Homo sapiens: one gene and its partner. The protein of the gene in region 1 interacts with the protein of each later gene in a pairwise test. Each region holds a gene or a part of one and is shown on either strand. Other genes may lie near its edges.

Region 1 (7,090 bases):
GCTCTAATCAGACTTAAAATAGAATTCAGCATTTCTACCATCTTGGATCTGTTCATTTGTTCAACTTATAGTATTTTTGAGGTATTAAAACAAAATAAATTAGGGATTTATATGTGCTGCCTATTTTATTAGACATGCAACATGCAATCCTCTCTCTCAACAGAAAGCTACAATTTTATCACTTCCGTGTCTGAAGTGAAGATTACCATCAGCATCTTGAGTGAGAAAATCAGACAGAGTGTTCATATCCTTTCCTCATGGATCTGGGCCAGAAAAGTTTCCGGCTCACTCACCTTTGGGTTCGTGTGATTCATCATCACTGTCCGAGCTATCATTACTCACAATATGCTTTGTGGTAATATTTTCTGTGAAAAGAAAACAAAAAAATTGAAGCATTTCAGGTGTCAAAATTAACAATTAATTTTAATATAAAAAAGTAATCTGAGCAAAACCACAGAGTGAGATCTACTAGCTCTACTAGTATAAATTTAAATCCATTTAATAATTCTAGATTTATTAGATTTAATCATGTTCTCAGATTTCTCACTGGAAACAAAATTTCCTGGGACATGAAAAATTAGTTTATATTTATTAATTCATGACTTAAAGAGGATAATTTTATGTTTATCATAATTCTGACAAAAATAACAACTTGATTATAGGAAGCTCCTTGTTATACCAAAAAATATGCCTTTTTCTTTATTAGATATTTTTAAGTGGTGTTTATGAAGATAAAGGATAAAACCAAAATCTACAGGTGAGCTACCAAACAGTTTTCTTAAAATGAATGAAAGATACTAACATAAATTATCTTTTGACTTTCAATAATATTGAAAATTGTCAGTTGAAATTCACCTTTTGGTGTCAAGAATTTGTGCTTCCTGCAGAACATATTAAGAGAGCAGTTATAAAAACTAAAATAACAACCAGAAATCCTTAAAACAAAGACAGCAGTAAATTCTAGCATAATAACTAGTTATCTTTCTTCTTTATGTTTTTTAAATGGTTACCCAGGCTGGCCTGCAGTGGCATGATCTCTGCTCATTTCAACCTCTGCCTCTGGGCTCAAGCAACCGTTCCACCTTAGCCTCCTGAGTAGCTGGGATTATAGGCATGGACCATCATGCTTGGCTAATTTTTTTAATTTTTTTTTTTTTTTTTTGGTAGAAATGAAGTCTCACTCTATTGCCTAGGCTGGTCTCAAACTCCTGGACTCAAGTGATCATCCTTCCTTGGCCTCCCAAAGAACTGGGATTACTGGTGTGAGCCACAGTGCCCAGACTAGTTGTCTTTTTTCAAGTAAAATGTGCGTGAATGAGCAAGAGTTAGTAATGGAAGGGTTAATAAATGCTTAAGGCAATGGATTGACATTTATTTTTTAAGTTTTTACTGGCATGATTATACATAAAAAATTTGATTAAATGTTCACAAGCTAATATTATTAGTTTCATTTCATGGCTATCATCAATAGTAATTTTGTTACACAGAGGTGTGGGAGATGTTAAGAAATGATCTATCCCAGGTGCCATATACATTAGGTGTGTTTCTAGTCCTACATTTATTTTCTTTTCCTTCCTTAAGTATTTTCTTTCTTTCTATTGCCTTTCTTTCTTTCTTCTTTCTTTTTCTTTTTTCTTTCTTTCTTTCTTTTCTTTCTTTCTCTTTCTTTCTTTCTCTTTCTTTCTTCTTTCCTTCCTTCCTTCCTTCTTTCTCTTTCTTTCTTTTTCCTTCTTTTTCTTCTTTCTTTCTTCTTTCTTTCTTTCCTTTCTTTCTTTCTGTCACATATGATAGTTTAAGAAAATAGTTCACCAAAATACTGTCTTATTTGTAAGGAAGAATTCACGATATGAATAGCTAACTATTCTGAATTTACATATTTTCCATCCTAGTATAATGTACAACTCCATCTCTCAAAAGTGTAAATTTTTCACATTCATTCAAAACTCCTTAGAGAGTAAGTAGTTTCATTCAGAGTTACCTGATTGTAGCCCAATTTACCTTAAAGTCTTTCTTCAGAAGGAAGAAAACAAAAAAGTAAAAATCATCTCTGAACACTCCTTTAGGAGATAGACTTCAGTCAGCCAAAGGATAGAGTAGTCACCAGGAGTCCTCAGAGTCCTCTTGGTCACCTCTCTGGTTTCATTTCTGGAAATCCTTACTTAATCTGAGGTAACATGCTTCCTGCTGACTGGCGGATCACACATACACGATATTCCCCCTCAGTCTGACACACAGTCCGAGTCAATAAGCTGCCAGACTGCCGGCCTCTAAAGAAACTTCTCAACAAAGAACCTTCTCAAAACTACCTAGTATAAACCTCCTCCTTTTCCTTGGCTTTTAGCCACTGTCTCACCCACATTCAGATCTGTTATTTCAGTCCTATTCTCTTCCTGCCTTAAGAAGAAAAAACAGCAAACCCTGGGTTATCTGGATTATTCAACAGAGGGGCACAGGAAGCAAGCCTCAATATGTGATCTTCTCTTTCTTCTTCTTTTTTTTTTTTTTCTAAAATCTTCACATAACTTAGAGAAAGGGTTTGTTATTTCCACAAAGAGTTGGGAACAGGACATTCATCTGGGATATAATGTTCATTAAAAGAAATCAAGTAAGATCATTTTATCATTATACACATTGCCTTGCAGTTACTCTTAGGAGAATGTGCCCCGTGGTAAATGTCACAGCAGGCTCATGGGTGCCACCTACCTTGTTTGCTCATTAACTGGGTGATGATCAGAGGACAGAAAATAAACAAACACAAGGTGCCTTATTTGTGTGTTTGTTTTTATTTTTATTTTAAAATCTTTGGCTCCAATGAAATTATAAGATAACTTTTCCATTATTCATTAAGAACTAACAAAAATACAAATGACACTCTTGAAAATATTATGAACTACAGGAGTTTACCACACTAAATACAAATATTAAATAAATTATCAAATAACTAAAATCAATTGTAGGAGCAGTGGAAATACTGCTTATAAGCCAACTTAATGTTCCAATTAATGTTACAATTGTATTCTCTTTTGCATGTAAACTTAATTAAATCAACTGACATTGCCTGGGATAACCAAGGACAGCTTGTTTAAAATTCCTGCAGGAAGCTTTTTGTATGCAAGCATTCTTCAAATAAATTAATTATTTAAAAAGTCATCAATGTTATTCTGTCGACTTCTTTGTTCTCAGATAGATCTTTGCTACTTCCCAGATAGAGAAGAGATAGTAGGTAGTTGTGTTGATAGTCCATCAGGCACTTCTCCCAGGTCCCTGCTGTTATGGCTCCAAATTCAGATTTAGCATGCCACCATTTCTTTATGCTATCAGTCAAAACAGTCAACCCAAAAATTAATGTTGATTAAAATACAGGTGGCAAGGCTTTTGGAAGAAACTGAATATAAATTTTTTGTTTGCTTTAAGTCAAATTTATTAATTTAAGAAAACATGTTTCTATGGTATTCCTATAATGAATGAAAACCACTGGTCCCCAGTTGAGATTGTCTACTTTCTCAGGTTTTGTAAATATTCGTAATTTATTATAGGCCAATAGGTTAGATTTAATGAAAATCATTAGTTTAAGTGTACTAGAGGTGATTTGATTTTTTTCCTTCTTTTGGGTATAGATTAATATAAGATGCTAACAGAATTCTGGTGAGTTAATATTTAAGGGTTAAATAAACTGACAAGCATAAGCTTCAGTGTTACATTGTATTTAGCTGTTGGTGAATCTAATCTTTAAAAAGCTATTCTTATTTGATAAAAAGAGGACTTTCTAATACAAATAGTATGTTTAGCAGTATAATGCGAAAAAGGAATAGAGATGTGTTCTATTAAAAATTACTCTTAGAAATCAATGATTTTTATGAGTTTTATAACCTCAGTGTCAAAATAATACTTAAGAAGTAACATATTATTTTTAGGAAATATTTAGATTGATTCAACCAAATTATTAATAAATTTAGAATAGTTGAAATATTTACAAAGATTTAATATTCTCTCTATATATGTCAATAAACTTTATCAATGTAGCAAGATTTGTATCAATGTAAGCATATCTTTAGGATACCTAATTCTTCCTCCATTGTGGAGCCTCTGCTTTGTGAACCAGAAACGCCCAAAACTCTGTTGAACAATATGGAAAAGGCACTGCCCCAGACACCTAAAATAAAACAGAAACAGAAAATAACTTAAAATATCCCAGGTTTCAAAATAGTCAAGCAAGTCAATGATATATTTTTATTTTGATCACTTACCCATTAAGAAATGCAAGGGGTTTTCTTCATACTTCTTAACGACTGTTCCCATAAAAAATTTGCTTCCAAATAAGTCGGGAGCCATAAAAGTACCATATTTAGCCATGCCAATTTCGTATGGACTAAATTCAACCCAATCTGAAAGTATTTTAAAAACAAGGCAATCCATTAATAGGAAAATGCTATGGCATGGTGTGCACAATTAATGATCACTTTAATAATGTTATGCTTATTCTCATTCATGTATTTAAAATATCAAAATGAAAACATTAGCCAAATGCCCATTATGTATATGACATTGTGTAGAAGTTGGGGGAAAAACGCTTAGAGGTGAATAAGACAAGACGATACAAAAAGATCCCTTCTAATTTGCAGAAATTAGATGCACTTTTCTATTTAAAAACTCAGATGTCTTTTTGAAGCCAGTTTTCATTCTACAGAACAGGAAACTGAAAACTGCTAACTAGATATAAATTTCATGGAGCATACAGAATAAATTAAACTCTTCTAAGCAATTCAAACAGTTTATTAAAATGAAATAAAATGTTTTCTAACATTTATCTTTTCTTCACCTTCACTTCAATTTTGCTCACTAACTGTCTATTCTAACTCCACAAGATTGCAATACAAAGTTTTTAGGTTGAATGCCTTAGAAAAACATGGTAATAGTGCCAGAGATGTATACTGTCTAAGCGCGGGGGCTCTGGAGCTGGACTGTCTGGGATCAAATCCTATTTTGCTGCTTATGAGCTGTGCTTACTGACTTGGGTATTATTCTCTCTGTCTTAGGTCCCTAATCTATAAAATGTGAATAAAATCACATATCACAAGTAGATAGTGTGTAGGATTGTTTTGAAGATCCACTGAGTTAAGAAATGTAAGGAGCTTAGAAGAGGACATAGCACATTTTAATTGCTCAATAAATAGTAGCCACTTTATGTTTCATGTATTCCCATGGCTACGACTATGTCTAATTATCATCTGCATCTTGATGTCTTCAGCAAGAACTCCTGGTTTCTGATTCCCATTTTCTACATTTGCAACTCCTTCATTCTTCTTCTTGTTGGTAAATGGTACTATATTATTCATGCCACTACTCACTTCAGGATTACCCTTGATGGTTCTCTTTTCCCTTATAGCTTACACAGGAAAAATCAAGTGCTGTAGGCTCTATCACGAGGTATGTTTAGAACCTGGTCACTTATCCATTTGTCCACTGTGATCGTACTGATACAAATTGCTGTATTCTCTCTCCTGGACCTCCACAATAACCTCCTAAAATGCTTCTACTCTGTTCACTTATTATCTTTTTGATATCCCATAGCCAGAATAAATCTTTAAAAATATAAATCACAGCACACCAGTGTCATCTGAAAGCTTCCCATTACACTGAAAATAAAAACAGGGCCGACAAGTTTCCGTCCTGGCCTAGATCCCACTCCCTGTGTGATGTGACCACATCCCTCCTAACAATGTTCTATCACATTTTGTCTTGCGTATCCCACTTCACTTCAGCCACACGGCACAGATCTTCTTGCTGTTCCTCAAAGAAGTCAAGTTCATTCCCACTTCAGCACCTTACACTTGCTATTCCCTTCTGCAGTTATAATGCTTGCTCCTACTTAATCTTTATTTTAGGGTCTTTGCTGATGGTCCATTTTAAAATCCCAACATCATCCACCCCTGCCCAACTCATAATTCTCTAACCCACTTCATTTTTTTTTCTAGCTTTTCTCTTTCTGAAATTATAATATGTCTGTAATATCTTATCCAACAATACAAAATCCAAACAATTCAAAAATTCATAAGCTTCTTTGTTACTCATTTGTTTGTAAAATCTAATCTGAATTCATTTAGTGAGAAATCAGGCTTGAATGTTAGTGGGGGCTCTTATAATTCATTTATCCCACTCAATGTGGATATTTATATATCCTATTGGAGAAATATCACTGATTATAAGAACCCAATGGGGTATTAGGTAATACACAATATGAGTATCTTTATATCTCCAAAATCCAAACATTTTGAATTCTAAAACACATGTCACCAAAGGTTTGGAAAAGGAATTGTGGATCTATATTTATTGTTTGTTCAATGGTAGGTCACAACACCTTCCTTTCATGAAGGAAGTGATGAAATCACAATTTTGATAACATTGTAATTCATTATATGTCAAAGCCAAATGGTACATATATTCTTCATCAGAAAGTGGTGTGATTTACAACGATTTACGTGGAATTTGTGAGACATAACTAGCAATGAATCAGAGGCTGTTAGGAAAATTCCTGTATTCATACAAGTAATTTCCTATCTCTCAATTTCACAACCCTATCATGGGAACTGAGGCATAACAACTTCCTGGTTCCTGCTTTTCTAGCGATCTCTTCTTGATTAGCGCCATGGCCTGGGCACATAGTAACTTAGGCATTCTCAAAAGCTAAAATGAGCTCTGCACCCCTCACTGAAGAACTCACGGTGTTAGTTTTCAACTAATTCTCTCCTGCTGGTGACTCTACCTTTTGACTCCAACCTCTCTCCTGCGCTTCCATGTACTTTCAACTTCCTTTGGGGCCCTTACACTCAGATATTCTGTCATCTCCTCCCACTATACTTACCTAGATAAGAACTCATCACCCTTCTTCCCGGGCCAGCTTACCTATTTCAGTAAACCATGCTATCACTCTATCAAATCCATCATTGCATCACACCGATAACCTTTAGGCCTCTCATATCCATCTATTCTTTTCTTATCAGTATGTCCCTAGTTCCAGGGCCTTATCACAAAAGCACAGTGATATCTCTGCTTCCAGTTTCATTCCTTTCCATTCTGTTTTTATTGGTCA
Region 2 (7,447 bases), on another chromosome or scaffold:
GTGGTGTTTCTGTCTTCTGAATCAATGCACCTCTCTATGATTATTATGTAATGTCCCACTTTGTCCCTTGTAGTAATCTCCACTATAAAGTGTGCTTTGTGAGATACTAATTTCACACTTTGAGTTTATGTGATTCATATTTGCAGGAAATATCTTTTTCCATCTTTTACTTGTATCTTATTTATTTGTAGAGTGGGGCTCTTTTTTTCAAGATACAGATTACTGATAAATATACTGTGAAAATCAAGATCCTCTTGCAACTGTGCAACAACAATAAAAGTACCGAAAAATTAGATGCAGAAGTTAATATACAACTAAAATGTTACGCAGAAATCCACAGAATAATCTGCTCGGCTCTTCAAAAGAACCTCAATCAAACTCTTTGACAGCCTTCATAGAAAGATATCTTCACATTAAAGTGGTATATTTATATGAAAAATATAATTTTATCCCCCTATTTTCTACAGTAGGGTTTTGGGTAAAATTTCATTTCACGAAGGTGTTCTTTTGCTAAAAATCCTTTGAGAAACAACTATATAAAATGATCTCTCAGAGCTCTCTTAGCTTTGAAATGTGGAGATTCAAATATCCCTCTGTAGATTGAGGAGGAGATGTAAAAAAAAAAAACAAAACAAAACAAAAAAAAAAACAAAAAAAACCACGGGGGAGGAAATGTTGGTCTCCTGCACTTTTCTTTTCTTTTTCTTCCTAGACTAACCAGTTTGTGTTGGTCCTCCGCTGAGCTGTTAATCCAGGGAAGAGTTGCCCTTCTGAAGAATATGTGGATTTAATGGAGACCAAGGCAGGTTTGAATCGCTCAGAAACAACAGCCAGAATAACTTTTGAAGGGCTGTAAATGAAGATGATTCAAATCCTCTGATTTATGTTACTTTTCACTCAAGTTTCTAAAAGTGCCTTCCCATCAAGAGCTGTTTGGCTAGGGACAGAAACGTTTGTTCAGCCCTATTTTTCTCTTCCTTCCTTCCTTCCTTCCTTCCTTCCTGCCTCCCTTCCTGCCTCCCTCCCTCCCTCCTTTACTTCTTTCCACCCTCCCTCCCTCGCTCCATTTGTCCTTATTTTCTCCCTTCCTCCCTGGCTCCCTTCATGCCTCACTCCCTTCCTTCTTTCCTACCTTTTATAAAAAGAAGTGAACTGATATTTGTAAAGTAGAAAGATCAGAAGAGTTCACAATTATTTTCGAGTTTTCTTTTAACTTTTATTTTGGGTTCAGGGTGCATGTGCAGGTTTGTAATATAGGTAAACTCATGTCATGGGGTTTGTTGTACAGATTATTTCATCACCCAGGTAGTAAGGCCAGTGCCCATTAGTTATTTTGTTGATCCTCTCCCTCCTCCCAGCCTCTACCCTCTGATAAGCCCCAGCGTGTTGGCCCTCTCTGGGTGTCCATGTGTTCTCAGCAATTAGCTCCCATTTATAAGTGACTTCATGTGGTATTGGGTTTTCTGCTCCTGCATTAGTTTGCTAAGGATAATGGCCTCCAGCTCCATCCGTGTTCCTGGAAAGGACATGATCTCACTGTTTTTTATGGCTGCATAGTACTCCATGGTGTATATGTACCACATTTTAAAAAGTGCAGTCTGTTATTGATGGGCATTTAGGTTGATCCCATGTCTTTGCTATTGTGAGTAGTGCTACAATGATCATACATGTGCATGCGTCTTTATAATAGAAAGGTTTATGTACCTTTGGGTATAGTCCCAGCAATGGGATTGCAGGGCCAAATGGTATTTCTGTTCTTAAGTCCGTGAGGAATTGCCACACTCCTTTCCACAATGGTTGAACTAATTTATACTCCAACCAACAGGGTATAAGCGTTGCCTTTTCTGCACAAACTCACCAGCGTCTGTTATTTTTGTTCTTGCTTTTTATCCAGCCTTATAGACTCTGACTCTGTTTTTTGAGACAGGATGTCTTTCTGTCTGTGAACGTGAATTCCGCTGGTGTCTGAGACTTGCCAGGATTCCAGCTCTCTCAAATGCCTGTGTTCGAACTTTATGAATTTGCTACATTTTCACTGGTTTTCTTCTTACCCCCTGTTATGGCTGTCACTTCTTCCACACATGCTCTGCCACAGGTGATGCAGTTTGTTTGTCTCATCCCTCCTCAGAGGGACTAAGTCACCATTTTGGATCAGTTCCCATGGCTGCCTTGTTACCTCAGGTCTCTCATGATCTAAAAACAAAGCAAAACAAAAGATAACGTTATAGATTATTAGGCTGTTTTTCATTTTCAAGGCTAAAGTGACTTTCTCTTGAGGCTTTCTAAATCTTACCTGGTGGTAGAACTCTCCTTTGTTAATCTTTTGACTACTGGTACAAAAATACAGCATTCAAATATGTGAAGTAAAAGATAATCCAGGGGCTAGCTGACTATGGCTTGAGATCTAAATACAGCCCATGGCTTGTTTTGCATAGCCATTGAGATAAGGATTTTTTTCCATTTAAAAGTATTATTGCTAAAAAACACAACACTACGCCACAGAAACTACATGACCCACAAAGACTGAAATAATTACGATCAGATCTGTTAAAGCAAAATTTGGTGATGCCGTATTAATCAAATACCTGTTATTCTGCTTTGCATTATTGCATACATCTTTTCATCCATTAATTAATTTATTTACACACGGATTGAAAATATGGATGTTACTCTATCCCCTCAAGAAAGCGTCCAGCTTTATGATACCATGATTTCAGTCTGGGAAACTTGTCCCAGGGATCAGGTCAATACACAAACATACATTTGAGGTAGGAGACTGGCAGGACTTGTTTTCTGGTCATAACTGAGCCTAGAGCCTACAGTCAGAATCTATGGCTATTTCTGAAACATATACTGTCTGAATGACCTACAGGTATATTCAGGGAAATCAGTTACCAGTCCAGAGATTTAAATGTGAAGTAACACAACCTAAAAAGAAAAGAGTAAACAGGTGTGAATGTATTTATTCTACAGAAGAATTTATTCAATTACGTTTATTGGAAGCATGGCAGAAAACCCAGAACCAGAGAACAAAGTGATTAATAAAAGCATTTATAAAACTGGCCAAGGTGGGAGGATCACTTGAGCCCAGGAAATTGAGACCAGCATGGGCAACACAGTGAGACCACTATCTAAAAAATAAATAAATAATAAATAAACCAATTACCCAGGTGTGGTGTCTGCACCTGTAGTAGCAGGGACTGGGGAGGCTACATCGGGAGGATTGTTTGAGCCCAGGAGATGGAGGCTTCAGTGAGGTATGGTCATGCCACTGCCCTCCAGCCTGAGCAACAGAGTGACACTCTGTCTGGAAAAAAAAATAAATAAAAACGGCTTTATAAATAAAGATATGAAAATAATTTATTTCTTCCACAAAAGGTCTTCCTGAGACACATCCTCCAGTAAGGGACTGTCTGTTCCCAACGTTTCTGAATGCATGAGATTGGACAAAGAGAGACGAAAGCTCTCAAGTCCCTTTTTCTACTACAAACGCCATGGGGATGCGGGTCTGGGAACAGCGGAAAACCCTACCCTGCCCTGAAAAGTCCCTGGCTCAATGTGCATGTCCCTTTCTATGAAAGTTCCTTGCTGCCTATGCGCCTTGCTCTCTAACTTCTGTCCCTCCACAACTGTGAAAGGAGACGTCGTGACTTCCTTCTTTCGTGCTGACTATGACTTAGCCAGTAGGTCTGCAGATCAGTCCTCCCAGAAAGTGAAGTGTGAGTGAGTGTGAGGGGGAGCGTGGGGGGCTTCCTGTGGGTTGTGCCACTTGGTCCATGGCCTCTGAGGTCGTCATCTTTCTACTAAAACTCAGCGATACTGCCATGGCCTTGCTGTTGTGGGGTCCCGGGCATGGGACGAAGGAGGGCCATAGCGGGGAGGAGGGTCAGGTGAGCATGGAGTGAGTTTTTTTTTTTTTTTCACGGAGTCTTGCTCTGTCACCAGGCTGGAGTGCAGTGGCGCAATCTCGGCTCACTGTAACCTCCGCCTCCCGGGTTCAAGTGATTCTCCTGCCTCAGCCTCCCGAGTAGCTGGGAGTACAGGCGCGCACAACCACACCCAGCTAATTTTTGTATTTTTCAGTAGAGACGGGTTTTAACCATGTTGGCGAGGATGGTCTCGATCTCTTGGCCACATGATCCACCCGCCTCCGCCCCCCAAAGTGCTGGGATTACAGGCGTGAGCCACCGCGCCCGGTCATGGAGTGAGTTTTGAAGGCTGACTTTATTTGAGGTATTTGAGTCCTGGTGGGGGGGAACCCACACACAGAGAGGAGGGATTCCAAAGTCGTTAATGGGGACCTGGGAAGGAGCATAGGACAGGGCAAGGCGGGATAAGGAGGGGCACCACAGCCCTTAAGGCACGAGGGAACCTCACTGCGCATGCTCCTTTGGTGCCCACCTCAGTGCGCATGTTCACTGGGCGTCTTCCCATCGGCCCCTTCGCCAGTGTGGGGAACGCGGCGGAGCTGTGAGCCGGCGACTCGGGTCCCTGAGGTCTGGATTCTTTCTCCGCTACTGAGACACGGCGGGTAGGTCCACAGGCAGATCCAACTGGGAGTTGAAGTGTGAGTGAGAGTGAAGAGGAACCAGCAGGCTTCCGGAGGGTTGTGTGGTCAGTGACTCAGAGTGAGAAGGCCCTCGAAGTCGTCGTCCCTCTCATGCGGTGCCACGCCCATGGACCTTCTTGTCTCGTCACGGCCATAACTAGGGAGGAAGGAGGGCCGAGGAGTGGAGGGGCTCAGGCGAAGCTGGGGTGCTGTTGGGGGTATCCGAGTCCCAGAAGCACCTGGAACCCCGACAGAAGATTCTGGACTCCCCAGACGGGACCAGGAGAGGGACGGCATGAGCGGTATGGAAGGGTCCTGGAGACGGGGCATGCTGCGGGCTAGTGACCGCAGCCCCGAGGTCTGTAGAGTGCCTGGCATAGGGGTCCTGTGAGGAGTGCCCACTGCTGTGTAGCAAATTCTCAACTCCACTGTGGAGATTCCAATGGGCGGGGCCCTGAGTTCCTAAAAATGTGACTTTGGGGTGGGGGGGAAGTGGGCCTAGCAAATCATTATGTGACAAAATTGGTGGTCACTGCAGTTTCAGTTCTGTAGCTGTAATTTCCTACTTGTCTCCCTGATGGAGTGTCCAGTTGTGAAACCAACCTCATGGGAAATGCCCTGTGTTTTTTGCCAGGAGCCTTAAGACATCGCTCAGCTAGCTAGACCTACTTAAGTGGCTTTGCAAGCATTCGATTCAAAAGGTGCATACACTTATACTTGCCCGGGGACTTTCAGAGTATTTCTAAATTAAAAAAAAAAAAAATGTCCAAGTTAACATTTGACCATGAAAGCGGTCAAATCTAGTTGTCCTGTCAAGTGCATTTTCCCAATCGCAGTATTCTGCTTGCAGAGTGAAGTATGTGTTGATGAGGACGATCAACATATAGGCCTATGCCAAGAAGTTCACAACCTCCTGAGCTCATTGTGCCTCTGCTTGTGAATGTCTTAACATTCGATGTTTTCTCTTAGCAGAAAGTTATTTTTCTGATAGTGTTGATGGACTAGTATGGATACACTGATAATGGTCTCCCATGCTGATAAAAAATGATCATGGCATCCCATGAAGGAAAGATTAGTCCAGAGGGTTATATTTGGGTTTTGTGTGGGTGGATGATCGTGTGTGCCCAGATTTTGTCCATAACTTCCTCCTCATGCTTATTCAGAACAGATTACACACATTCATCCCAACATTGATTAAAACGGCTTCCAAAGTCCCTGAGGATATCTGTCTTTGAGTAACCTCTCTGAGGGAAGAATAGTGTTATGAAGATTAGGTATACGGGGTAGTGTTGGAGAAATGTCTCTAGACATACTTATAATAAGACATACCTGTGTATTCTGTATATTTATATTATTGACATGTATTAATAACAAAACTTTTTATCTAGACACACACAAACACAGAACCACACAGCCAGTCCCAGGAGCCCAGTAATGGAGAGCCCCAAAAAGAAGAACCAGCAGCTGAAAGTCGGGATCCTACACCTGGGCAGCAGACAGAAGAAGATCAGGATACAGCTGAGATCCCAGGTGCTGGGAAGGGAAAGTATGTCTATGGGGCGGGAGAAGGTCTATGTGTGCATTGTGGCCTATGCCATGAGCAGTAACAGGAGCAAAGAGAACATTAGGAAAAGATACCAAACATTTGCTCAAAGTTGGCTGGAAAAGGGAGAGTATAGTTTGCAGCTTCATGCTGTCCCTGGATATAATGAATCTTCTCTTGTTCTTCGAGATGGATTTTGTATGCTTGAAAATACAGTCCTTACTAAATCACTTGAAACCATTTAATTTGGTGTATAGAAATGTACATTTTTTTATTATGTGGCAGAGGCTCATCTGTCACGCAGTGTGGATTGTTGTGGCATGATCTTGGCTCACTGCCACCTCCAGCTCTTGGGTTCAAGCGACCTCGGCCTCCCAAAGTGCTGAGATTACAGGCATGAACCACTACGCCTGGCTCAGGCTTTATTTCGTAACGCGAAGGAAGAGAATATTATCATTTCCTTATTTATATTTCATGTTGGAATGCTTAAATCGATAACCTTTGTATTTTGAAGTGCGCGACATGGAAGGTGATCTGCAAGAGCTGCATCAGTCAAACACCGGGGATAAATCTGGATTTGGGTTCCGGCGTCAAGGTGAAGATAATACCTAAAGAGGAACACTGTAAAATGCCAGAAGCAGGTATGTTATCCAGCAAGATGCAAAGTTATGTGCTTTCTCATTTACACAGTATTATACTTTTGATAATAGAGGGATAACATTAGTGCTACTTTAAAAACACAGTGCAAATGCAAATGTTCTTTGAAACGTCGTTCAGACCCAAATGCCAGATTGCAAGACTTAAACACTATCAGATACAGAAACAAATTGGGTCAAAGCCATATTGAATCATCAAACGTGACAGCATTTTCTTAGTTTGGTGTATAACCAACAGCTAACAATTTTCAGATTCTTTTCTAATTTCTGCTTTTAACAAACACATAATGCATTTGTAATACCAGTTTGTGTGAAGTATGCTGAGCCCTGAAGCAGATTCTAGTACCAGCTCTACCATAATTTGTGAGAGTCTGGATGAATCGTATAAATTCCACAGGCATCCTTGCTCTTAGTGAAAAGAGTGGATGCACATCAGATAGATTAAAATCCATTTCGTTGCTAATTTCCACATGCTCTGGTTCTGTTGGATAGAAGACCAAGATATTCTGATCTTCATGATTTGTTTATCATAACAATCAGCTTCAGTCCAATTATAGTGTCTGAGTTGAGATTTCATGGTTCCTAGGAAAATGAGCGGGCACTCTGCTTGGTGTTTGTTTTCCTGTGTGGAGCCCTGTATGAGTGTTCTTGTATTTTGCCAAATTCTGAGTTCTCTGTCTCTTAAAGAATAATTGCATT

The links. The genes of interacting proteins can lie anywhere in the genome.
Region 2: the proteins of PLA2G4A (region 1) and XAGE1B interact in a two-hybrid assay, tested with the Homo sapiens proteins (one study listed by BioGRID).

The regions. Positions count from the first base shown.
Region 1 is NC_000001.11:186,943,932-186,951,021, reverse strand, and holds part of PLA2G4A (cytosolic phospholipase A2), read right to left. Parts: intron 4,386-7,090; coding exon 4,248-4,385; intron 4,154-4,247; coding exon 4,061-4,153; intron 366-4,060; coding exon 294-365; intron 1-293. UniProt on the Homo sapiens protein: Has primarily calcium-dependent phospholipase and lysophospholipase activities, with a major role in membrane lipid remodeling and biosynthesis of lipid mediators of the inflammatory response.
Region 2 is NC_000023.11:52,514,064-52,521,510, reverse strand, and holds the start of XAGE1B (X antigen family member 1), read left to right. Parts: upstream 1-4,447; 5' UTR 4,448-4,531; exon of another isoform or gene 4,532-4,660; coding exon of another isoform or gene 4,661-4,851; intron 4,852-5,937; coding exon of another isoform or gene 5,938-5,983; coding exon 5,984-6,079; coding exon of another isoform or gene 6,080-6,095; intron 6,096-6,606; coding exon 6,607-6,733; intron 6,734-7,447.